4 linked regions of the Homo sapiens genome follow. The protein of the gene in region 3 interacts with the protein of the main gene of each other region in a biochemical or structural test. Each region holds a gene or a part of one and is shown on either strand. Other genes may lie near its edges. The genes, in order: PRPF31, SUMO2, CTNNBL1 and CDC5L.

Region 1 (4,672 bases), on a different chromosome or scaffold from region 3:
CCAGCCCGAAGCCCAGCGGTCACCAGCCGGCCGGTCCCACGGGCACCTGCTCCGGTACCCACTCGGCCCGGCTGAGGCCTGGGGGCCCACACACGCGGGGGATGCTGGGGAGCCTGAGAGGGGCCCGGTCCCAGCACTGCTCTGTGAGCTCAGAGTTGGGAGGCCATTCCTTCCTTACTCGTGTGGGTCGGGGGATGTCAGGAACCAGAACAGGTTTAATAGGATGAGGTGGCCTCTGAGTTCGGTCCTGCAGGACCAAGGGGATGACGCTGGGATAACAGAGGAGACTGGCGGGGCCCAGGGACGGGGCGGCCGTGCAGCAGGGCACTAAGGAGCCTCTGGGCAGGGAGGAACCGGCCAAGGAGCCCGGGGCGATGGGAAGCCGCGGGGGCTCTAAGCAGCGGAGACACAGGCTCCAAGGGTCGCGAGGGTCGCTTTGGGGCTGAACGGATGGAAACGAGAATAGAGGCCGGGGGGGGGGAGGCTGGGGCAGCGCCCTAGACATGAGCCAGGGCCACAGGACGAGAGGAGGGGCGGTGGCAGGAGGCAGAGGGCGGTGGCGGCTGGCTGGCTGTGGGGTTGAGGAGGGCGCTCTGGGAGTCTGACCTCTCCGAAGCTCATACGGTTGGCCTGCTTCCGGATCTCCGTCAGCCCCAGCCGCTCCTTCATCTTGCGGTACCTGGGGACGGGTGGGTGGGCGGCGCCAGGGAGTCGGCTGGGAGGAGGACGCCGGCTTCTCCCCTCCATGACCCCCATGCCTACCGGACCCCCAGGGCCCCTCACCTGCGGCCGCCTCGCTTCTTCCGCTGTCCATCCAGGGGCGCAGGCAGCGGCTTCACCTGCTTCACAGGCGGCGGCTCCTGCCACTTGTCGAATTTGCGCTCGATCTCATCCTTCAGTTCGTAGCCCACCTGGGGAGGGCGAGGGGGAGGTCCTGCAGCTGCTCGCGTGGGCTGCCCACCCAGGCCTCCTCTGAGCGGGCCCCCCGAGTATCCACGTGCCTTAGTTAAATCAGCACCTAATGCTGCCTCACCGCCACCCCCTTTCTTTTTCTTCTTGGTGTTGACTTAGCACCGCTAGACGCAGGACAGAGTTCACCTGTTGACTGTCTCTTTGACCCGGCCCCAACAAGAATGTCCACGCCACGGGGCAGGGGTCCTGTCTGTGCTACTCACAGCTGCACCCCCACACCCAGACCAGGGGTGAGATGGGGAGAGGGAAAGGAGAAGGGGACACGGAACACCTGAACGCTGTGCCAGGCCGGGTGCTTGGCAAACGACAGTTCACAAGACAGAAAACGTCTCCTCTCCCGAGTACATCTACCAAGGAAGACAGAAGGTAACTGAATAATTACTTGAATAACATCCCCTGTTGCAGCGGGGACAGATCCTGGTGTGGAAGGCAAATTACGCCCCCACCAACACACACATGCCCAAAGAGGCCCATGTTCTAATTCCCAGAATCACAGGGCAAAAGGGACGTGAAGAGGTTAAGAAGGATTTTAAGGATTGTGAGCTGGGAAGACTATCCTGGACCATCTGAGTAGGCTCAGTATAGCCACAGGGGCCCTTAAAATAGAAGAGGGGAACAAAAACAGAGGCGGAGATATGAAGACAGAAGCAGAGTCAGAGAGAGGTCTGAGGGTGCTATGTGGCTGGCTCCGCAGACAGAGGGAGGGCCACGAGCTAAGGGGTGCCAGTGACCCCTAGAAGCTGGAAAAGACCAGGGAATGGATTATCCCTTGAATCCCCCAGAAGGAACGCTCCAGGATGACACCCTGACTTCAGCCCAGTGAAACTCATTTTGGACTTCTGACCTACAGGACCACAGATAATAAACCTGTACTGTTTTTTGTTTTTGTTTTTAGATGGAGTCTCGCTATGTCACCCAAGCTGGAGTGCAATGATGCAATCTCAGTTCACTGCAACCTCCGTCTCCCAGGTTCAAGCAATTCTCCTGCCTCAGCCTCCTGAGTAACTGGGATTACAGGTGCGTGCCACCACACCCGGCTAATTTTGGTAGAGATGGGGTTTCACCATGTTGGCCAGGCTGGTCTCAAACTCCTGACCTTGTGACCCGCCCACCCTGGCCTCCCAAAGTGCTGGGATTACAGGCGTGAGCTACTGCACCCGGCCACACCTGCACTGTTTTAAGCCAGTAGGTTCATGCTACCTTCCAACAGCAGACCTAGGAAACCCCACTGGGGAAGGGGGTGCCTGACCCCAGGGAGGGTGGGCAGAAGCACTGCCTCCGCCTTGGTAGGACAGTGCTCGCTGGGGTGGGCTCCCTGCTGAGGGTCTCCCTGCAGAGACACCCCAGGCCCAGAGGAAAAGACGCCCGGCCGCCCCTCACCTTTCCCTCCTCACCTTCCCTTCTGTGCTCTCGTGGAAACTGTCCACACGGGCTGCCAGTGTGCACTTGGCGGCCACCAGCCGGGCCGCTTTCCGCCGCAGATCCTGGAGCAACGGAAAACGGGGGTGGAATCTGTGTGAGACAGACAGACAGAGGTAACAGCAAAGCAACCGCGCGCGCTCCTCCTCTGGCTCTACCTGGGGTCCTGGAAGGGGGCTTTCCACCCTTGGGCTCTAGAGGTGTGTGCTCTCAGCTCCTACTTCACAGGAAGAGGGGATGAGGGCAGGGCACAGAGCCATGTCCCAGCTGATAAGTGGCCATCAGGTAAGGATGACAGTAAGGCACGCTGACAACGAGGACGGTGGTGACTGTGGAGACGCCGGGGGGAGTGCACTCGGCCTGGATGCCAGCCCCATGCTAAGCACGCCCCTCGGATCATCTCATCAAATATTCAAATATCGGGCTGGTGTGATCATTGCACCCCCTTTTCAGATGTGGAAACCAAGGCTTCAAGTCATGTGGCCAGGGAGACAGCCAGCAGGTGATGGAGCCAGGGTTCCAATCCAAACTGCAAACAGAGCCCAGCTGTCAGCCACAGTGAAGCGATGGCCAGCCCTGGCCTCCCTTACAGGCCTGTGGTGTCTACGGCCTGTGCCTGGACCGATGTGAGATGGCCAAATGAAGAGGCAGAGGCCTGGGTGACAAGACATCAGGCTCCCTGGGGCAGGTTTAACCCATATGCCCAGGGCTGTGAGGCGGTGGCGATGGCAGGGGTGCAGTGAGGCAGCTGGAGCCCCGAGCCCCAGGCCCACCCGTCCTGGGTTCTATCGCCCACTCTCTCTCCTCCCAGGATGGGGTGACCTGCCAGCCTCCCTGGGTGTGTTCCAGTAGCAGTGCCTGACCTAAAGGGTCGCAGAAAAGACCACAAAAAAAACCCCACACAGGGCTGGGGGGTGGGGCCAGGAAGTGCCTGCCCAGCCTTGGCCATCAGTGCTATTGTTCTCCCCATCCCTGGGGGAGGCCAGGCAGGGCACAGGGCCGTGAGCCTGAGGTAACTCGCCACAGTTGGACAGAGCAGGGTCTGGACCCAGGCCTGTCTGTCCCAGAACCTGTCTTGCTTGTTTTTTTTTTTTTTTGAGACAGAGTCTCACTCTGTCACCCAGGCTGGAGGGCAGTGGTATGATCTTAGCTCACTGCAACCTCCACCTCCTGGGTTCAAGCGATTCTCCTGCCTCAGCCTCCCAAGTAGCTGGGATTATAAGTGTGTGCCACTATACCCAGCTAGTTTTTTGTATTTTTGGTAGAGATGGGGTTTCACCATGTTGGCCAGGCTGGTCTCGAACACCTGACCTCAGGTGATCTGCCCGCCTCGGCCTCCCAAAGTGCTGGGATGACAGGCACGAGCCACTGCGCCCCGCCAGGCTAGCGGGCCTGTGTGTGTGCTGTCAGGCGTCGATGCTGGGATGGTGATGTGTCCCGACTGCAGGGAGAGGACCCGGGAAGCTCCGAGGTTGGTGACCTCTCCTGCCCCTCCTGTGTGTCTCTCCCCATGGCTGATGTGCAGCCCTCAGTGGATTCTGTGAGTCTTTCTAGTGAATGGTCAAACCTGAGGGTGGTCTTCGGAGCAGTTGCACGCTAACCCGACGCTGCTTGTCGTGAGCTAGGCCTGAACTGTAAGTGCTTCATGTGCACTGAGCCCTCGTCCCAACTCATGAAGCAGGCGCTGTGCTCCCATTTGATAGGGGAGGAGACTGAGGCACAGGGCGCTCATGCCTCTTGCCCACAGTCACCTGACTGGTGGGTGCTGGAGCTGGTCTGCTGCAGAGCCCTGGCTCTCACGTCCCATGCCACCCTGTTCCCAGCTCCTGAGTGCTACCGTCAGCTGGGCCAGATGGTGGGTGGCTGCTCAGGCTGTCTGGGCACAGCGGAAGGCTCCAGGGGGGCCGGGGGAGGGGCCATGACGCAGTGGGCTCACCGGTGGCAGGGACTGCACGATGTCACTGTGGTAGATGTAGCCGGTGTGGGGCAGCACTGAGGTAGACGAGAAGCCCGACAGCGTCTTGCGCTGGGCCCCGAGCAGCATGATGTTGCAGGCGGGCATCTTGGAGAGGTTGGTCAGGCCGCCGGCCACACCTGCGGTGGGAGGGAGGGAGGAAGGGGGGGCGGTCAGAAGAAAGCAGAGAGGTGGGGGTGAGTAAATCTGCCTGGGGGCTCGACGTGTGCTGGGCACCTTTACATGAAGTTCTGGTTGGATTCCTCGATGGCCCTGCCAGGCGGGCGACCTGGCCCATTCCGCAAGGGGCAGATGCAAAGGAGGCTC
Region 2 (6,404 bases), on a different chromosome or scaffold from region 3:
TTTTTCACTTGGCTTCCTTTTTTATGACTATTAGATAAAACTTTTTTGTTTTTTTTTTGAGACAGGATTTCTGTCACCCAGGCTGGACTGCAGTGGCGTGATCTCAGCTCACTGCAACGTCCACCCCTCAGGTTCAAGCAATTCTCCTGCCTCAGTCTCCCAAGTAGCTGAGATTACAGGCATCCGCCACCATGCCCAGCTAATTTTTTTGTATTTTTAGTAGAGATGGGGTTTCGTCATGTTGGCCAGGCTGGTCTCAAACTCCTGAGCTCAAGTGATCTGCCTGCCTCGGCCTCCCAAAGTGCTGGGATTACAGGTGTGAGCCACTGCGCCCAGCCAAAACTTAGTTTTTGAGTAAAAAGCAGAATATTAGCCAGGTGCGGTGGCTCATGCCTGTAATCCCAGTACTACTGGAGGCCAACATTGGAGGATTGCTTGAGCCCAAGAGACCGAGACCACCTGGGCAACATAGGGAGACAACATCTCTACAAAAAAAAAAAGGAAAAAAAAAAAAAATTAGCCAGCCATGGTGACACATGTCCATACTCCCAGCTACTCAGGAAGCCGAGGTGGGAGGATCAATTGAGCCCATAAGATCAAGGCTGCAGTGAACTGAGACCACACCAGCTCACTCCAGCCTGAGTGACAAAGCAAAAGATCCTGTATCAAAAAAAGAGAAAAAAAGGCTAGGGCCACGCACAATGGCTCACTCCTGTAATCTCAACACTTTGGGAGGCTGAAGTGGGCGGGTCACCTGAGGTCAGGAGTTCAAGACCAGCCTGGCCAACCTGGTGACACCCCATCCCTATTAAAAAAAAATTTTTTTTTTTTTTTTGAGACGGAGTCTCCCTGTGTCGCCCAGGCTGGAGTCCAGTGGCAGGATCTCAGCTCACTGCAAGCTCCGCCTCCTGGGTTCACGCCATTCTCCTGCCTCAGCCTCCCGAGTAGCTGGGACTACAGGTGCCCGCCACAACGCCTGGCTAATTTTTTGTATTTTTAGTAGAGACGGGGTTTCACCGTGTTAGCCAGGACAGTCTAGATCTCCTGACCTCATGATCCACCCTCCTCGGCCTCCCAAAATGCTGGGATTATAGGCGTGAACCACTGCACCCGGCCTAAAAATATTTTTTAAATTAGCCGGGCATGGTGGCATGTGCCCGTAATCCCAGCTATTCGGGAGGCTGAGGCAGGAGAATCGCTTGAACCCAGGAAGCAGAGGTTGTGGTGAGCCAAGATTGTGCCACTGGACTCCAACACCGGTGACAGAGTGAGACTTGGTCTCAAAAAAAAAAAAAAAGGTGGGGGGGGGCGGGTGTGGCAGCTCACACCTGTAATCTCAACACTTTGGGAGGCCGAGGCAGGCAGATCACCTGAGGTCGGGAGTTCAAGACCAGCCTGGCCAAAATGGTGAAACCCAGTCTCTACTAAAAATACAAAAAACAAAACAAAAAAATTAGCTGGGCGTGGTGGCGCACGCCTGCACGCCTGTAATCCCAGCTACTTGGGAGGCTGAGGCAGGAGAATCACTTGAACCCAGGAGGTGGAGGTTGCAGTGAGCCAAGATCATGCCATTGCATGTGACAAGAAACTGTCTCAAAAAAATTAAATAAATGAAAGCTGAATATGTCTGTGTCGAGGGCCCACAGAAGGGTGATATGTTTAAAGAATCTCGCTGCACTGCTTAGCAAAGACTGAAAACAAATCTCAATAAAAACCCAAATTAGGCTGGGCGCCGGGGCTCACGCCTATAATCCCAACACTTTGGGAGGCCAAGGTGGGCGGATCACCAGGTCAACAGGTCAAACCCATCCTGGCCAACATGGTGAAACCCTGTTTCTACCAAAAATACAAAAATTAGCTGGGTGTGGTTGCGCACGCCTGTAGTCCCAGCTACTCGGGAGGCTGAGGCAGGAGAATCACTTGAACCCGTGAAGTGGAGGTTACAGTGAGCTGTGATTGCCCCACTGCACTCCAGCCTGGCAACAGAGCAAGACTCTGTCTCAAAAAACAAAAACAAAAACAAAAAACACCAAAACAAAAAACCCACGGCAGGCGTGGTGGCTCACAAGGTCAGTCATTCGAGACCAGCCTGGCCAACATAGTGAAACCCCGTCTCTACTAAAAATACAAAAAATTAGCTGGGCATGGTGGCAGGTGCCTGTAATCCCAGCCACTCAGGAGGCTGAGGCAGGAGAATCACTTGAACCTGGGAGGTGGAGGTTATAGTGAGCTGAGATCACGCCACTGCACTCCAGCCTGGGTGACAGTGCGAGACTCCAGGTCTCAAAAAAAAAAAAAAAAAACCCAAATTAATAAAACATAGTATGCTCAGATATTAAATACCATATAGCCGTTAAAAAATAAGATTTTCATGTACAGAAATGAAAATATCTTTAAGATACAGTAGATACAGTGTTAGGCTAAAAACACAATTTTAAAACTAAGCAGCAGCCAACTCGGTGCACTGACTATATAAGTTAGCCATGCTCTGTAAGGGGCAGTTAAAAAAAAAAAAAAGTACACCCCAAGGAGCAAAGCAGCTTATTGTATGACTACATTTGTGTTTTTCTATTTTTTCTTGCGATGGAGTTTCGCTGTTGTTGCCCAGGGTGGAGTGCAATGGCGCAATCTTGGCTCACTGCAACCTCTGCCTCCCGGGTCAAGCAATTCTCCTGCCTCAGCCTCCCAAGTAGCTGGGATTACAGGCATGCGCCATCATGCCCAGCTAATTTTGTACTGACTCCGTCAATACAGAAAATAAAATAAAAACAACATAAACAAATAAAATAAAAACAAAATTAGCCAGGCATCATGGTGGGCGCCTGTAATCCCAGCTACTCGGGAAGCTGAGGCAGGAGAATCGCTTGAACCCAGGAAGCAGAGGTTGCAGTGAGCTGAGATCACGCCACTGCACTCCAGTCTGGGAGACAGGGCAAAACTCCGTCTCGAAAAATAAAAAAATAAAAAAAAGCTGGGGAGGCAGGAGGCCTGCTAAGATGTTTTAATTTATCACAATCCTGCTATCTAACAAATATTGGGAGAATAATTCTAAAACGAATCAATTCCAAATTCTTCAAAATGAAGTAAAATGAATTGCAAATTCAACCTGAAGATTTTAAAATGCCTCAAGGTCACGGATCCAAACAAATAACTCCTTGTTTAATATTTGTAACTACTATAGCAGATAATCCCGTTTTAGTGGTGGGTAAGGAGGGCTTAAAGACAGGAAATACATTCTAATAACTGAGAGTACAGCACAATAGATACTTTTTACTATTTCTTTTAAAACCAAACAAGCCTGTCATCTATCTACTAAAACAAAATTATCCAAATGTGAAGTTTTACAGTGAAACTGTAAATGCCTTTAAAAAATGAGGTTCCTGTACCAGCCTCATTTATCAATAGAATTTAGCTCCTCCTTGTGGCTACATACCATAATTGCGCCTTTTTTTTTTTTTTTGACAGGGTTTCACTCTTTCACCCAAGCTAGAGTGAAGTGGCATGACCTCCGCGCTCACTGCAACCTCGACTGTCTGACACCTTTCCCCCGCCCAGATTCTCCTGGCTCAATCTCCCGAGTAGCTGGGATGGGATTACAGGTGAGCACCACCATGCCCGGCTAATTTTTGTATTTTTAGTAGAGACGGGGTAGTTTCGCCATGTTGGCCAGGCTGGTCTTGAACTGCTGACCTCAGGTGATCAACTTGCCTTGGCCTCCCAAAGTGCTAGGATTACAGTCGTGAGCTACTGTACCCAGACTTTTTTTTTTTTTTTTTTGAGACAGGGGCTGTTACCCAGGCTGGAGTGCAGTGGCACTATCTCTGCTGACTTTAATCTCCGCCTCTCGGGTTCAGGTGATTCTCCTGCCTCAGCCTCCTGAGTAGCTGGGACTACAGGCGTGCACCATCATGCCTGGCTAAATTTTTTTTTTTTTTTTTTGAGTTTCGCTCGTTACCCATGCTCGAGTGCAATGGCGTGATCTCCGGCTCACTGCAACCTCTGCCTCCTGGGTTCAAGCGATTCTCCTGCCTCAGCCTCCCGAGCAGCTGGGATTACAGGCCACCACACCCAGCTAATTTTGTATTTTTAGTAGAGACGGGGTTTCTCCATGTTGGTCGGAGTGGTCTCAAACTCCCAACCTCAGGTGATCCGCCCACCTCGGCCTCCCAAAGTGCTGGGATCACAGGCATGAGCCACTGCGCCCGGCGATGCCTGGCTAATTTTTGTATTTTTTGGCAGACACGGGGTTTCACCATATTGTCCAGGCTGGTCTCAAACTCCTGACCTCAAGCAATCTGCCTGCCTCAGCCTCCTGAAGTGCTAGGATGACAGGTGTGAACAAGTGCACCTGGCCCGTAATTCCTTTTGAGAGACTGTCACCAGTTGAAATGTCTTCAAAATATTCTTCTTTTCAGTACAACTCAGGGGCTTTTCCAATTTTCAAAGATTATCAACAAAACTACAATCTGGATGTGCTGCTTCATGCCACATTTATCACTTTCTAGTTTTTACTGGGTGATAAAGTTGAAATTCAAAAGTACATGGGATCCAATTTAAATTTCTACTATCACAACATTGTAAAATATGTTTCAGAAACTGTAAGTCTTCTATTTTTGAGACAGAGTTTTGCTCTATCGCCCAGGCTGGAGTGCAGTAGTATGATCATAACTCACTGCGGCCTGAAACTCCTGGACTCAAGCACCCCTCCCACTAAACTTCCCAAGAAGCTGGGACTACAGACACATGCTACCATGCCCAGCTCTTTTTCTTTCCTGTAGAGACCAGGTCTTGCTATATTGCCCAGACTGGTCTTAAACTCCTGGCCTCAAGCAACCCTCCTGCCAGTGTCAGTTTCCTAAAGTGATAGGACTACAGGTGTGAGCCACCAAGTCAGGACAAGACTGGAAGTCATTTTTTTTTTTTTTTGAGAGAGGGCCTCACTTTGTCACCCAGGCTGGTGTGCAGTGGTACCATCTTGGGTGACGGCAGCCTCCACTTCCTGGGCTCAAGCAATCCTTCCACCTCACCCTAAGAAGTAGCTGGTACTACAGGCACGTACCACTGCTCCCTGGCTAATTTTTGTATTTTTTTGTAAAGAGAGGGTTTTGCCATGTTGCCCAGGCTGGTCTTGAAATCCTGGACTCAAGTGCTCCGCCCACCTTGGCGTCACAGTGCTGGCATTACAAGCACTTTGTAATCTTGAAAATGGCTCTCATGAGCCACCCTGCTAGGACAAAACTGGAAGTATTTAATGGAACTTTGAAAGGGTAAAAAGAAACAAAGAGCTTCTGCCACAGAAGACAATCCAGCTGATCCTACAGAAAGTGACAGAACAAAATGAAGTGGTACATAAAGAGTTAAAGGATCAGAGAGCATCACGTTTTGTAGTAAGGATCTGGAAAATCTCCTATTATCAGGGGCTCTCCCTGTCAAACAAAGCTATGGGACGTGGCAATTAGGGCTATTAGTTCCTTTTTGTTCATGAAGACACGTAAAAGAGAATTTCAATTCAGCATGTAGAACTAAAATGGTGAGGATTTGGCTGGGTGCGGTGGCTCACACCTGTCAATCCCAACACTTTGGGAGGCCAAGGCGGGCGGATTACTTGTGGTCAGCAGTTCAAGACCAGCCTGGCCAACATGGTGAAACCCCATCCCTACCAAAAATACAAAAATTAGCCAGGCATGGTGGTGCATGCCTGTAATCCCAGCTACTCTGGGAGGCTGAGGCAGGAGAATTGCTTAAGCATGGCAGGCGAGGGCTGCCATGACCCAAGATCGTGACACTGTACTCAAGCCTGGGCGATGGAGTGAGATTCCGTCACAAAAAACAAACACAAACCACTGGTGGGGTTGGGCACATTGATTCGTGCCTATAATCCCATCACTTTGGGAGGCCAAGGCTGCAGTGAGCTATAATGAGGCCACTACACTTCAACCCGGGCAACAGAGAGGCCCTGTCCCTAAAAAAATAATTAAAATGAAAATTAAAAATAAATGAATAAAAACCATTGGCATTTCCTGAGCCTATTCCTATTTTCCTTTCTGTTCCCCTCTGGTCATACTTCCCAAAGCTCTGAACTCTACAAGAACTTATACTCCAGTGTCTAAACGTTCAAATTCATAAACACAGCTGTTCAAAGAATTACAAATGGTAATTTTTCTAATTAGGAGAGATTTTTTTACCTGTGCAGGTGTGTCTGTTTCATTGATTGGTTGCCCGTCAAATCGGAATCTGATCTGCCTCATTGACAATCCCTGAACGAGAATTTAAAAGCAATAAACAGCATTAAGAGAAACAGAATTCTATTTACATAAAAGTACATGCATATTTAACCATGAATATATTAAAGAAATACCTAAATAAACAATTGCCAACATGTTAACATACCCTATAGGTAAAAA
Region 3 (6,404 bases):
GAACACCCCTGAAATCATTATCCAGGATGAGAAACAACTTTGCCAACTCCCCTCAAAGCCCTCCACTTGCCCAACCCAACCATATCTCATTTCTTTCCCTTCTAAAAGCAACCACAATCCAGAGGGCTGAATCGTGGCTCAATATAAGGAAGCATTTCCTGACAACCAAGGCTACTGAATTCCCTCACAGGGGAGCTGGGGCTTTAATTCATGGGAAGGGCTTACAGCATTAGTTTTCTTTTTGCCAGAGATGTAAGGCATGTTAAGAGAAGCCTTTAAACTGTATATGCATACCCATACAGTCTACTACAAGAAGATCAATAATCTCACAGGAAAAGGACTAAGCACCTTCCCAGAACTGGAAACAGATTCACATTTCAAAGCTCTATTTTTGGGGTGGAGGCCAAGACACTCAGGCTGCTGGCACCAAGATGGAAGCTGTATGCAAACTGACATCTCAGACTCTCCCAACACTCTTAAGATTTTATCCAAATGATCTATTTTCAGTCCTGTTTTTAGAATAACACAGCTAAAACTTGTAAGAGGAAATCTTAACAGTATTTTCAGAATGCCAGCAGAATAACATTTCAACTGGATTTACATTTCTTACAGTGAGAAAATGGCAGTTTCCAAGTTCTCACTCCAGCCTTCAGCACCACATCCTCCCCTATCCTCCCCTTGACCCCCACCCCACTGCAGTGGAACTTGTACTCCTTGAGCTTATTCAGATCCTAAATGAACATACTCCATTTTCACAGCAGATTGAAAGGAAGGTTGGTGAATAATCTTGGCAGTGGGTCAAATGAAAATAATTTGGTATGCTTGGCCCAGAACATACACACTTAAGCATGAGGCACATCTTTTTTGAGTTGACAATATCATATCAGAAGATGAAGAAAGTTCAGAACTGATACACAGTGATGTCTGGTCATAAAGAGCAAATGACTAAGAAAAGGAGGCAAACCATGTCCCTCCGTATAACCCTCAAACCTGCCAACATGCTCCATATGGCTTGCAGCACATGGCTTATTCCTTCCCACAGTTTCCAGCTCCACCTCCCATTCAAAGCAGACCATGTATCTTACAGCAGACAGGAAGCATAAGAATTACTCACGGATAACTGCTGAAGAAGCACATCGATTCCATCCAGCTCCCCAAGCAATTCCCTGTTTTCTAAAGGGGAAAAAAATAGAGGAAGAAAAAAAATGAACCTAACTGTCAGATTTTACAGCCGTCTAACACTGATACATCAGCAAACAAAATCAATACAGCTTGACAGAGTACAAAAGCAGCACAGGGAGTGAGAGGGAGAGCAAGGGGATGCCAAAGGCAAGAGAGCTTGCTGTCATGATCTGAAACAAGCCTGGCTCCTATCCTAACAGAATATCAATACTGAGAGGGCGCCTCACCATCATTGTCCTGGAGCAATATGGCCAGCACTTCACTGCAATACAGTTTGTTGGCATCAAAAGGCATCTTTGCCTATGGGGAAATAGGAGAAATGAGAAAAATGTTAAGGGGTCTTGCTTCCTTCCCCAGGACAAATTTTTCACGAGTACTATGATCTGAGTTAGAGAGAAGCAGAAGTTAGAAAAGGAAAAGGCAGTTAAGGGTAAAAACGTCTGCCTCTGCTCTCAAGAGACCAGAACCAAGTAAAGTGACAGATTGAAACAATGGCTCTCACACTCTTAATGCCCAGGTATTAAGGTTACCTCCTCGGTGAAGACTTCCAAGATTTCCCATTTTGAGTCCAGAGATTATATATGTCTAGCCCATAGTACCCAAATGTGAACTAGATGAATGAGAGTTTTGAACTTTTAAGATTAAAACTCACCATGAAGCTTAATTCACAAGTTACAATCATGAAATTAGGCTATAAATTAGTTAATATATGAGCAGAGAAGAAAGCAATTCTTGATTAACTGAATGTATTTATCACAAAGTAGTTCCTTCTGGATTTTTTTAATGCTTAAAATTTAATTTGAAATCATAAACTTATCTGCTTGCATGCCATAATCTGCCTACTACTTAAAACAGAAACCACATTAAATATGCAAAAATGTGTTAATATTTTAACACCCAAATTACTACCCACAATTCTTTCCCCGCTGCATGCTCTGCTATTTGGGAGTTTCAGAGGGGACACATCTACTGCACAGACTATCTTTCATGGCTGTCCTCAGTGTTGCTTCGGTAGTGAGACTTAAATATCTCACCATTATCACTGCCCCCTGGATAAAGGTGCATAGAGAGGAGCGAGTCTCAGTGGTGTGTTTTTATTTATGGTGCCCATGATCCTTAAAATGCAGGCATGTAAACAATGATTATTAATCAGCAGCAACCTTTGCTACCTATCTGTGTTTTTGAAATGACAAAGAATTTCTGTACTTGGAAAAGACAAGGGAAGTGTTTATCTTGGAACTAACACTTCCGTCACCTTACCGCCATTCACAGATCTGTTTAGATATTGGTTTTATACTTAAAGAGGAAGAGTTGTACCTAATCAAGCAATATTCAGTATCATTTCAGTTTTCTGTGCACGTCTTCCTCATCAAGCTAAGTGCAGCCTACAGGGTTTCAGGAGGTCAACCAAGTATGACCATCTTAGGTTAAAAGATCTATAAATGCAAGGTCTTACATGTGCTAAATGTAAGGTATGCTCCCTGGGCGAGCTTGAAGCCTTGTTTCAAGAAATTCAGCATAATAGTCAGGGCTTAAATGCAACCTGTGGTATGTTTCACTTTAAGAAAAATGGTTTCATATTAACGAAAATCAAAACATGAAGGTGAAAAGCCAAGGAGTAAGCATCTCTATCAAAATCAAGGATTTGCGAATAAAATTTCCCACTCAAATTATGTAAGTTCCAAGTACTGCTATTATATTTTAAAAGATTTAAGCCACACCAACTTATACATTAGCATTGCAAGGGCCATGGTTCTTGTTTAAAACAAGACACTTAACTGAAAGAAGCCAAAAGACAGTAGGTCACTAGAGCCATGGCCTTTCTGTGGATCTAATGCCTCTTGTCCTTTATTCAATTTTGTAAGCTCCTGTTTTCAAGTTGGGGGGAGTTTTTCTTCCTTTCAATAAATACTTATTAGGCACCTGCTATAGGGAAGACACAGAATTAAGCAAGAGAACAAACAGGGGTAACTTAGATCTGAACTCTGTCCACTGTTGTGGCATTTAAAAACCTTACACTGAATTAAAATTAATTTTGTAGAAATATCAAATTTTAAAAAAGGAAAATAAAACACAGATCTGGCATTAGACACACCTAAGGTTGACTCAAATCTGCAGTTCTCCAACTTTGCGCTGTGGCAACTGGGGTGTCATATTTAATTCACCACAGGATATGTTAAATTTTCAAGGAGAACACAGTGAAATGTGACATCTGTTGAACACTGCATTAACCAGGAGCTCAAGTTACATTTCTTCTGGTGACATCATATCTTTGTGGAGCTGCGTTTGGATAGCTGCTCTGACAAAAATAACTGTGAAAATCGATGTGAAATCAGAATGATGGTCGTAGCGTTCAATCTGATCCTAAGGTTTAAGGATTTGAGCAGTACCAAAAGGCACACATACCATTAGGAAGTAACTATGATATTTAAGAATGAAATAAAAATATTTTTTCTTTCAATTTGTGTGTATTATCTTCTCAAATGGCTAATAAATTGTAAGGACATAAATATATATTAAATGGTTTGGACATAACTACTTAATAAATGAGACTATTAGGTACTTTTTGGCATAGCGGTGCTGTAAAAACAGAATTACTGAGACACTAAGAATGCTGTAAGCTGACAATGGGAATCTATGACCCAAGAAACATTCTCAGTCTCAGTTTCCTCATCTGTAAAATGAAAATAAAAAATAGCACTTTTTTGATTAAGGGCACTGACATGAAAAAAAGAAAAAAGAAATAGAAAAAAAATCCCACTTATTTGGAGAGTTACTATGAGAATTTAAAAACATAATATGAAAGTACCTAACACACAGTAGGTACCACAAGTTTTTCTGACAACCATAACCAGAAATATCTGCATTAGAATCTGAGCTCTAACAGTTACCAGCTATGAGACTGGCCAAATTAATATCTTCCTCATGAAGTGGCTGTACTAAGGGAACTGGTGTATACATAACAGGCACCGACCAGCTGAGTTTCTTGCTACTGAGAATTCTTGGTTCCACAGGAAATCTCCACCTTTTGCTGTAAGACACTACTAAGAGTTTCCAATTTAACCAAAGTAAGTTTTTAAAAACCAGACTGATAACTTCATCATTTTTAAATTAAAATATAAGTTCTGACTGAGAAATTGGCATGAAGGAAGAATCTAATCAGGAAACCAAAATGATGAGGCCCGATAACTCCCCAACGCTGAGCTCTGCAATGCTTCAGAACCTAAAAGCAGTGCCAGCTGAGAAGCAGCTTGGCAAGAGGAGGTGGCTTCAAAGATGCCAAGGCCCAATGCTCACAGGCTCTCTCACGTGGTTCCCATGTGGTTTGGGCAACACCATTTCCTCTCTCTCTGGGATTTCTTTATCTGTAAATTGGGGATAGCTGCACCCTCTTGGCAGGGCTGTTTGTGAGGATTAGAAATAATGTATGTGGCCAGGCGCAGTGGCTCACACCTGTACTCCCAGCACTTTGGGAAGCTGAGGCGGGAGGATCACTTGACCCCAGGAGTTCAAGACCAGCCTGGGCAACATAGTGAGACCTCATCTCTACAAAAAACTACAAACATTAGCTGGGTGTGGTGGTGTGCACCTGAAGTCCCAGCTACTTGGGAGGCTGAGGTTGGAAAATCACTTGAGCCTGGGAGGTTAAGGCTGCAGTGAGTAGTGATGGCACCAACACTCTGGCCTGGCCAACAGCATGAGACCCTGCCTCAAAAAAAAAAAAAAAAAAAAAAAGAGAGAAAGAAAGAAAAAGAAGAAAAAGACAGGAAAGAAAGAAGAAGGTTCTAGAAAAACACTTTAGCATGTAGTGAGCAGTCAATACATGAAACTCATATCAGATGATGAAAACTTAGTGGTGATGATGATGATGATGACAACCAAATGTTTTAATCTGGTAGAAAAGAAATAGAAGAAATTAGGCCAGGTGGGAAGAAAGGAAAGTAATCTTTCATGTCTAGCCAAAGACAACACTTACAAAGCATATTTTATTTCTGTTTAAATCCCAGCCAGAGATTGCACAATACCAAACTGCCAAATTTCAAAGACATTTATTCAAAATCAGGAGAAAGGAGATTTTACTTAGCAGGTATAGTCTCTTGGATTTTGCAAAGTTAATCAGCGGGACTTGGAACTTGTAGGGCTCTCTTCTATCCAGGAGCCTGGCTCTCTTAAATCTTTCAGCTGTCAGAGTAATTATAGAGTCATGCATAGGTTTGTACTCAGCATGTACTAGCCTTGAATAAAATTACACTTCACCTTTTTGGGAGCTGCTGCTTTTCTGGAAAGTACAAAACAATTATGCTACCACTCACAGCCAGAAGCTGCAGGTTATATCTGTAGCTCACCTCTGCTACCTGGAACACATGGGGCAGGTTCAGACATATCTACAGCTCTGTACAATTGTCAAAGCAGATTGTGCCCTACAAAATCCCAACCTCTGGTCATAGAGGCTAAGAACTTTAGCATCAACCAGTTGTACATGTAATATAACTTAACTGAACGCTGCAACTGTTTCTGAAGCATTGATTTAACTGGGTAACAAGAGGGAATCTTATACTTGGTTTTGCTGTTATTTTCAATAGTACGTAATATCTTAATAAGCTTGTATTCCCCATTAAAAACATTAATTGTGATGCAGCATCTCTCACACTACTGTTATCTACTTACCTGTTAATCCATTTAATGCAATCATCTGCAGTGGTTTTTATCCTCATAAGAATAAATTAGTGGGGGTTGATTTGTTGGATGAAGAGATCCATGAATATCTCTATATACTGCTAGGCTACCAGTACAAAAAGGAGAAATCCAACACTAGAATGCTGTCACCAGTGTGCCACTCACTTAAGAATCACTCAAGGATTACTGAATAAATATGAGATGATCAGTCAAATCGTAAGGTTTTATCAAGCAATCTAGACATAATTACTCTAGAACCTTGGTTCTCAGACTTCAGCTTACATCAGAATCATCTTGAGGGCTTATTAAAACTCAGACTGGGCCGGGCGCAGTGGCTTACACCTGTAATCCCAGCACTTTGGGAGGCCAAGGCGGGCGGATCACAAGGTCAGGAGATCGATACCATCCTGGCTAATACGGTGAAACCCCATCTCTACTAAAAATACAAAAAATTAGCCGGATGTGGTGGCGGGCGCCTGTAGTCCTAGCTACTCAGGAGGTTGAGGCAGGAGAATGGCGTGAACCCAGGAGACGGAGCTTGCAGT
Region 4 (6,404 bases), on a different chromosome or scaffold from region 3:
GGGCTTATTCTGTTCTGATATTGCAATTATTTTTGGACTTAGTTTAGTACTGTCAATCTCCCCAGAATATAAATTTCCTTAGGACAAAGGACATCTTTATTCAACTTTAGATCCCCTCAAATGTCCAAATGCATGCTCTGCATGCATGAGGTTCTTAATCTATTTAATTCTTATGTATCCATTCAGAGTTGGCTTTAGTTGATATCAATTTGAACTTTAAAAAACATATATAAATCAACCAAATATATACATGAGGTTAGAATTAATTTTAAACTGAAGACAAGCCAGTATCATTAGAAGTTTTTTTTTTAATTTCACAATGATTTCTGTGGCATTAGATAATAAGGCCCAATAGCAAAGTAATAAACGCAGTAACACGGGCAGAAGCAAAACTTAACTTTTTACAGTTAGCTTTCTACCTCAGCTTGCTAAAGAAAACTTCAGTGAAATCAACAACGAACATCAATATTCACAAACCTAGTAAGCATAAAGAAAGGTGGGTTTTGAGCCCAAAATATTCCCTTTCATCAAGTCTTACAAATAATTCTTTTTCTGGCATCCACAGGTGTATAGATTCTTAAGGTATATGTGATATGCACTAACAGGAGAAATTTTAATTTGGCATCCATGAGATATTAAAAAAAAATTTAAGAGTATTAAAAGGGAATTGACATTTACCATCTGCTTCACGTAAGAGGGATCACTATAGTCTGCCATTCCATCCTCGGGATTAATGTTTAACTTGTCTCGAAGAGGAGTTCTACCCGGAGTAGAGTTAATAACTGGTTTGGGAGTTGTTCCACTCCGGGGAGTCAGCCCTTCAGCTCCATTAGAAGGAGTCCTAGAAAGACAGGAATCCCAATTAACAGAAGTGCCACTTACATTTGGATTGTGCTTTCAAATGTTTTTCACATAAATTATTTCACAGGAAATATAGAAAAAAAAAAGAATAAAGATTTCAAAATTCTGTCCAGCTGGTTTTGTTAGGATCTCTAGGTTAAAATCAATGTTTGGTCTAGCTAGCATGGTATTTTTATTTTACTGACTTACAATAATCACTACATTTGATATTTTCTTGCCTTCCTAAACTACGTCCACTAAACATTATTTCAACCTTTTCTTGGCACATTAGGGCGACTAAGAACATGCAGTGGGCAGGGAGGTGGGCCACCACACTCAATGACCCCAGATGACTCTTTGAGTTTTGTGTATATTTGTCTCCTCCCTCCCTATCAAGCTGTTGGTTCTCACATCACTATCACTGTCATTATTACAAATGTACACACTTTATTAAATAGTTCCTCCTTTTACATTTTGTTTGGAAACCAAACACCACACTTTTGAAATCACATCTAAACATGAGTAAGTTCCTGAGTGAGGCCTAAGAGATTCTCCTAGGAATAAGATCCACAGATTTTGCAGCAACCTATATTTTAATTATTCAAAGTCTTTTTTTTTCCTGGTTGCCTATTTCCTGTATATTGGTGTGTTGCAGAACGGTGATGCTGCCAGACAGCTATTCCTGATAGGTAAGGTGTTATCACATAAGACATGGTTCCCACCCCCAAGGATTTTACAATCTAGGTGAGAGACAAGACATACAGTTGTCCCTAAGTATCCACCGGGGATTGGTTCCAGGACCAATACTCAACTCCCTGCAGATACTCAACTCCCTGATATAAAACGGCATCGTATTTGCATATAACGTATGCACATCCTCCCATGTACTTTAAATCATCTCTAGGTTACTTATAATACCTAATACAATGTAAATGCTATATAAATAGTTGGTACATTGTATTTTTATTTGTGTTATTTGTTATTGTTGTACTGTTTGAGTTTTTTGGAATATTTTTTATCCACAGTTGGTTGAATTCACAGATGTGGAATCCTCAGATACAGAGAGCCGACTAAACATAGGAAATGAGGGATTATGCTCTCTTACAAGACTCTCAAGAAGTGTTAAATGTTTAAGACTGGCTGCCAATGCTTCTTGGTTCTGCTGTCATGATATGTGTAATAGCCTGAAGTGCTTTCTCTACTAAATAACCAGTAGGAAGACATATCTTAACACTTAAAATTCAAAGTAAACCCCAAATATTTCCAACCATTGTAAGTTCCAATTCCATTTTCCTACTACATGCTTCCATAACATTTGTATTTTAAAGATTCTTCTTAAAAAACAGCAGCTTAAAACTAAGCAAGAGTTATAAAGAAATACTGAATTCTAGTTAACGCATGTGGAAGTGTTTTGGGATCAAACAAACTGCTACCTGCAAGTTACTTCGAAATGCATTAAAAATTATGATGGATTGGTGGATGGATATGTGATAAAGCAAATATAGTAAAATATTAACGATCTTAGAATCTAAGTGGTGGGTATATGGATGTTCACTTTACCATTTGTCAACTTAAATGGGTGAGAGACCGGGTCTCCAAAACAAAGAGTTTATTCGGGAACGGCAAGGGATTACAGTGTGGGATATGTGTGCTATGACAGACCATAGGTACAACTGAGGGTGCTGGGGCAAGGAGAAGTTTTTAAAGATACAAGGGAGGAGTCTACGCAAACTGTTCTGAAACAAAGACCATTGGTTACAGGGACTTATCACAGGAGGTGGCATTTGTTTTCATTGCCGGTATAGATAAGAGTATCCCTTATCTGAAATGTGGGACCAGAAGAGTTTTAGATATGGGATTTTTTCAGATTTGGGGATAACTGCATTATACTTACTGGTTGAGCATGCCAAATCAGGAAATTCAAAATCTGAAACGTTTCAATGAGCGTTTCCTTTGAGTGTCATGTTGGTGCTCAAAAAGTTTGGATTTTGGCCAGGCGCAGTGGCTCACACCTGTAATACCAGCACTATGGGAGGCCAAGGCGGGTGGATTACCTGAGGTCAGGAGTTCGAGACCAGCCTGACCATCACTGAGAAACCCTGTCTCTACTAAAAATACAAAATTAGCCAGGCATGGCGGCGCATGCCTGTAATCCCAGCTACTCGGGAGGCCAAGGCAGAAGAATTGCTTGAACCTAGGAGGCGGAGGTTGTGATGAGCCGAGTTCGCGCCACTGCACTCCAGCCTGGGCAAGAAAAGCAAAAGTCCGTCTCAAAAAAAAAAAAAAAAGTTTGGATTTTGGAGCATTCTGGATTTTCAGATTTGGGATGCTCAACCTGTACTGGCTGTTGGTAGGGCAATGTCTTCACAGAAGCAACTTATCTGGAATTTGTGTGGTTTTCAGAAGGTCCCTGCAATAATTTCTGTCATAGGCATACGCGCATGAGGGTTCCTTTTTCATTAAAATGTAACATAAATGACTCCATTTCAATACTGATAACTTCCACACATTCTTTCAACCTTTCTAAATGCCTGAAATTTTCATAATAAAATGCTGGAGGGAAAGCAATAGTAATACATACATAAAAGGATTACATAATAAAATTCACAAAGTAATCATTAAAAATGAATCAATCTACTCTAAAATCAAATACAAAGTATTCAAAAATAACGTGATAGGATCCGAAGCTTTGCAAAAGAACACTCCAATTAGACAGGCATGGTGGCGGATGTCTGTAATCCCAGCTACTCAGAAGGCTGAGGCACGAGAATCGCTTGAACCCGGGAGGCAGAGGGGTTCCGTAAGCTGAGATCGCGCTACTGCACTCCAGCCTGGGTAACAGAGCGAGACTCCATCTTAAAGAAAGGGGGGGAGGCACTCCACAGTATTTAACCATTTCCTGGACACTATTATTTATTACTATGAAGAAGAAATCAAAGAGGAAAATCCAACACAATAAGTAGTCATTCTCCGTAAACATTACTAAAGCAAATATGCTAAGTCCTTGAATTCAAGTTTTTCTAAAATAAAAACGTGTTCATTTACAATACCTGAATGGAGTAGAGAGAACTGTGTTTGGAGTCTGTACAACTTGTCGCTGTGGAGTTACACCTGAGAAGTCACTCTCATGCAATGGGGTATTAAGTCCACCTTTCAATGGGGTGTCCACATTGGTGAGGGCCATGAGGTTCTGGGCTTCCTGATTAACAAGAAGACAAAGAAGCAAGTTTAAAAGTTTAGACAGACTTGCAGAATCTCTTCTGGTCCTACTATACCAATCTTGAAGCAGGCAGAATCCTTACTCATTTTCTCAATGAAAGCTAACAGAGAAAATGAATACCAGTCATGGCAGATTTCAATGTTTCCATTCCTTCTATCAATCTAACACATCACATTAGAAGTGTTATACATCATGGGAAAACTGGCTAGCCATATGTAGAAAGCTGAAACTGGATCCCTTCCTTACACCTTATACAAAAATTAATTCAAGATGGATTAAAGACTTAAATGTTAGACCTAAAACCATAAAAACCCTAGAAGAAAACCTAGGCAATACCATTCAGGACATAGGCATGGGCAAGGACTTCATGTCTAAAACACCAAAAGCAATGGCAACAAAAGACAAAACTGACAAATGGGATCTAATTAAACTAAAGAGCTTCTGCACAGCAAAAGAAACTACCATCAGAGTGAACAGGCAACCTACAAAATGGGAGAAAATTTTCGCAACCTACTCATCTGACAAAGAGCTAATACCCAGAATCTACAATGAACTCAAACAAATTTACAAAAAAAAAAAAAACAAACAACCACATCAAAAAGTGGGCGAAGGATATGAACAGACACTTCTCAAAAGAAGACATTTATGCAGCCAAAAAACACATGAAAAAATGCTCATCATCACTGGCCATCAGAGAAATGCAAATCAAAACCACAAGGAGATACCATCTCACACCAGTTAGAATGGCAATCATTAAAAAGTCAGGAAACAGGTGCTGGAGAGGATGTGGAGAAATAGGAACACTTTTACACTGCTGGTGGGACTGTAAACTAGTTCAACCATTGTGGAAGTCAGTGTGGCGATTCCTCAGGGATCTAGAACTAGAAATACCATTTGACCCAGCCATCCCATTACTGGCTATATACCCAAAGGATTATAAATCATGCTGCTATAAAGACACATGCACACGTATGTTTACTGTGGCACTATTCACAATAGCAAAGACTTGGAACCAACCCAAATGTCCAACAATGATAGACTGGATTAAGAAAATGTAGCACATATACACCATGGAATACTATGCAGCCATAAAAAATGATGAGTTCATGTCCTTTGTAGGGACATGGATGAAATTGGAAACCATCATTCTCAGCAAACTATCACAAGGACAAAAAAACCAAACACCGCATGTTCTCACTCATAGGTGGGAACTGAACAATGAGAACACATGGACACAGGAAGGGGAACATCACACTCCGGGGACTGTTGGAGGGTGGGGGGAGAGGGGAGGGATAGCATTAGGAGATATACCTAATGTTAAATGAGGAGTTAATGGGTGCAGCACAGCAACATGGCACATGTATACATATGTAACAGACCTGCACATTGTGCACATGTACCCTAAAACTTAAAGTATAATAATAATAAAATTTAAAAAGAAGTTTTATACATCAAATAAAGTTTTATGTGTAGAGGTGTGCTTTTGTGGCCTCACATATGAAATTACTATTACAAGAATTCAAATTTCCCAGCTTAGGCCAAATGTCTGAATGCCTGGGTTTTAGTCTGGCTTCACCACTGAATTCTCTATCCAGTCTTCATTAGTATCTCTGAGGTCTGTTTCTTCTACTGGGAACTTAAGATACTCCCAAGCAACCTTTCCACTGCACAAGAAAACAACTTGTGGGGGTCAGGTCCCTTTCAGAAGTCTTGCTGATCTCTTTAGGCAGAACTGACCATGTTCTCTTTAGTCCCTTCACTGTAACCCTGTCCTCAGTGCTATCTTTGTACCCATAAATCTCTTTATGTCCAACTTAGGGCCTGTGGCAAAGTTTATTTTCCAAAGATGGTCACAACCTTCTCTCTCATGTTTCATGTTCTTAAAATCCAACTGTGATACTCCTTCCATCAAGAGGTAGGGTCTATGTTCCCTCCCCATAAATCTAGGTGGGCTTGTGATTCACCTGAAACCAACAGAACACAACAAAAGTGACAATGCTTGACCTCCCAGGTTAGTTTAGAAAAAATAACGCAGCTTCCCACCGCACTCACAGTGGAGCCCTGAGATACCACGTGAGAAGTTCAACTGTTCTGAGACCACTACACTATGAGAAAGCCCAAGCCTCATGGAAAGACCACATGCAGATTCACTCCACATTCCCAGCTGAGGACCCACCCCACCAACAGCCAGCATCAACCACCAGACATGGAAAGACAACACCTCCAAATGACTCTATCCCCTATCCATCAAATCACACAGAACCGCTGAGTCCTCCTTACTAAGGCCCTAGACATCATGGAGCACAGACTAACCACTCCTTCTGTGCCCTGTCTGAATTCCTGA

Evidence for each region.
Region 1: the proteins of CTNNBL1 (region 3) and PRPF31 interact in a biophysical measurement, tested with the Homo sapiens proteins (one study listed by IntAct).
Region 2: the proteins of CTNNBL1 (region 3) and SUMO2 form a complex in vitro, tested with the Homo sapiens proteins (one large-scale study listed by BioGRID).
Region 4: the proteins of CTNNBL1 (region 3) and CDC5L form a complex in vitro, tested with the Homo sapiens proteins (3 studies listed by BioGRID and IntAct, with this or other methods).

What each region holds. Positions count from the first base shown.
Region 1 is NC_000019.10:54,124,312-54,128,983, reverse strand, and holds part of PRPF31 (U4/U6 small nuclear ribonucleoprotein Prp31), read right to left. Parts: intron 4,486-4,672; coding exon 4,328-4,485; intron 2,485-4,327; coding exon of another isoform or gene 2,457-2,484; coding exon 2,367-2,456; intron 912-2,366; coding exon 784-911; intron 680-783; coding exon 607-679; intron 1-606. UniProt on the Homo sapiens protein: Involved in pre-mRNA splicing as component of the spliceosome. Required for the assembly of the U4/U5/U6 tri-snRNP complex, one of the building blocks of the spliceosome.
Region 2 is NC_000017.11:75,168,567-75,174,970, forward strand, and holds part of SUMO2 (small ubiquitin-related modifier 2 isoform a precursor), read right to left. Parts: intron 6,258-6,404; coding exon 6,186-6,257; intron 1-6,185. UniProt on the Homo sapiens protein: Ubiquitin-like protein that can be covalently attached to proteins as a monomer or as a lysine-linked polymer.
Region 3 is NC_000020.11:37,772,423-37,778,826, reverse strand, and holds part of CTNNBL1 (beta-catenin-like protein 1), read right to left. Parts: intron 1,483-6,404; coding exon 1,410-1,482; intron 1,174-1,409; coding exon 1,115-1,173; intron 1-1,114. UniProt on the Homo sapiens protein: Component of the PRP19-CDC5L complex that forms an integral part of the spliceosome and is required for activating pre-mRNA splicing.
Region 4 is NC_000006.12:44,417,084-44,423,487, reverse strand, and holds part of CDC5L (cell division cycle 5-like protein), read right to left. Parts: intron 4,040-6,404; coding exon 3,891-4,039; intron 842-3,890; coding exon 679-841; intron 1-678.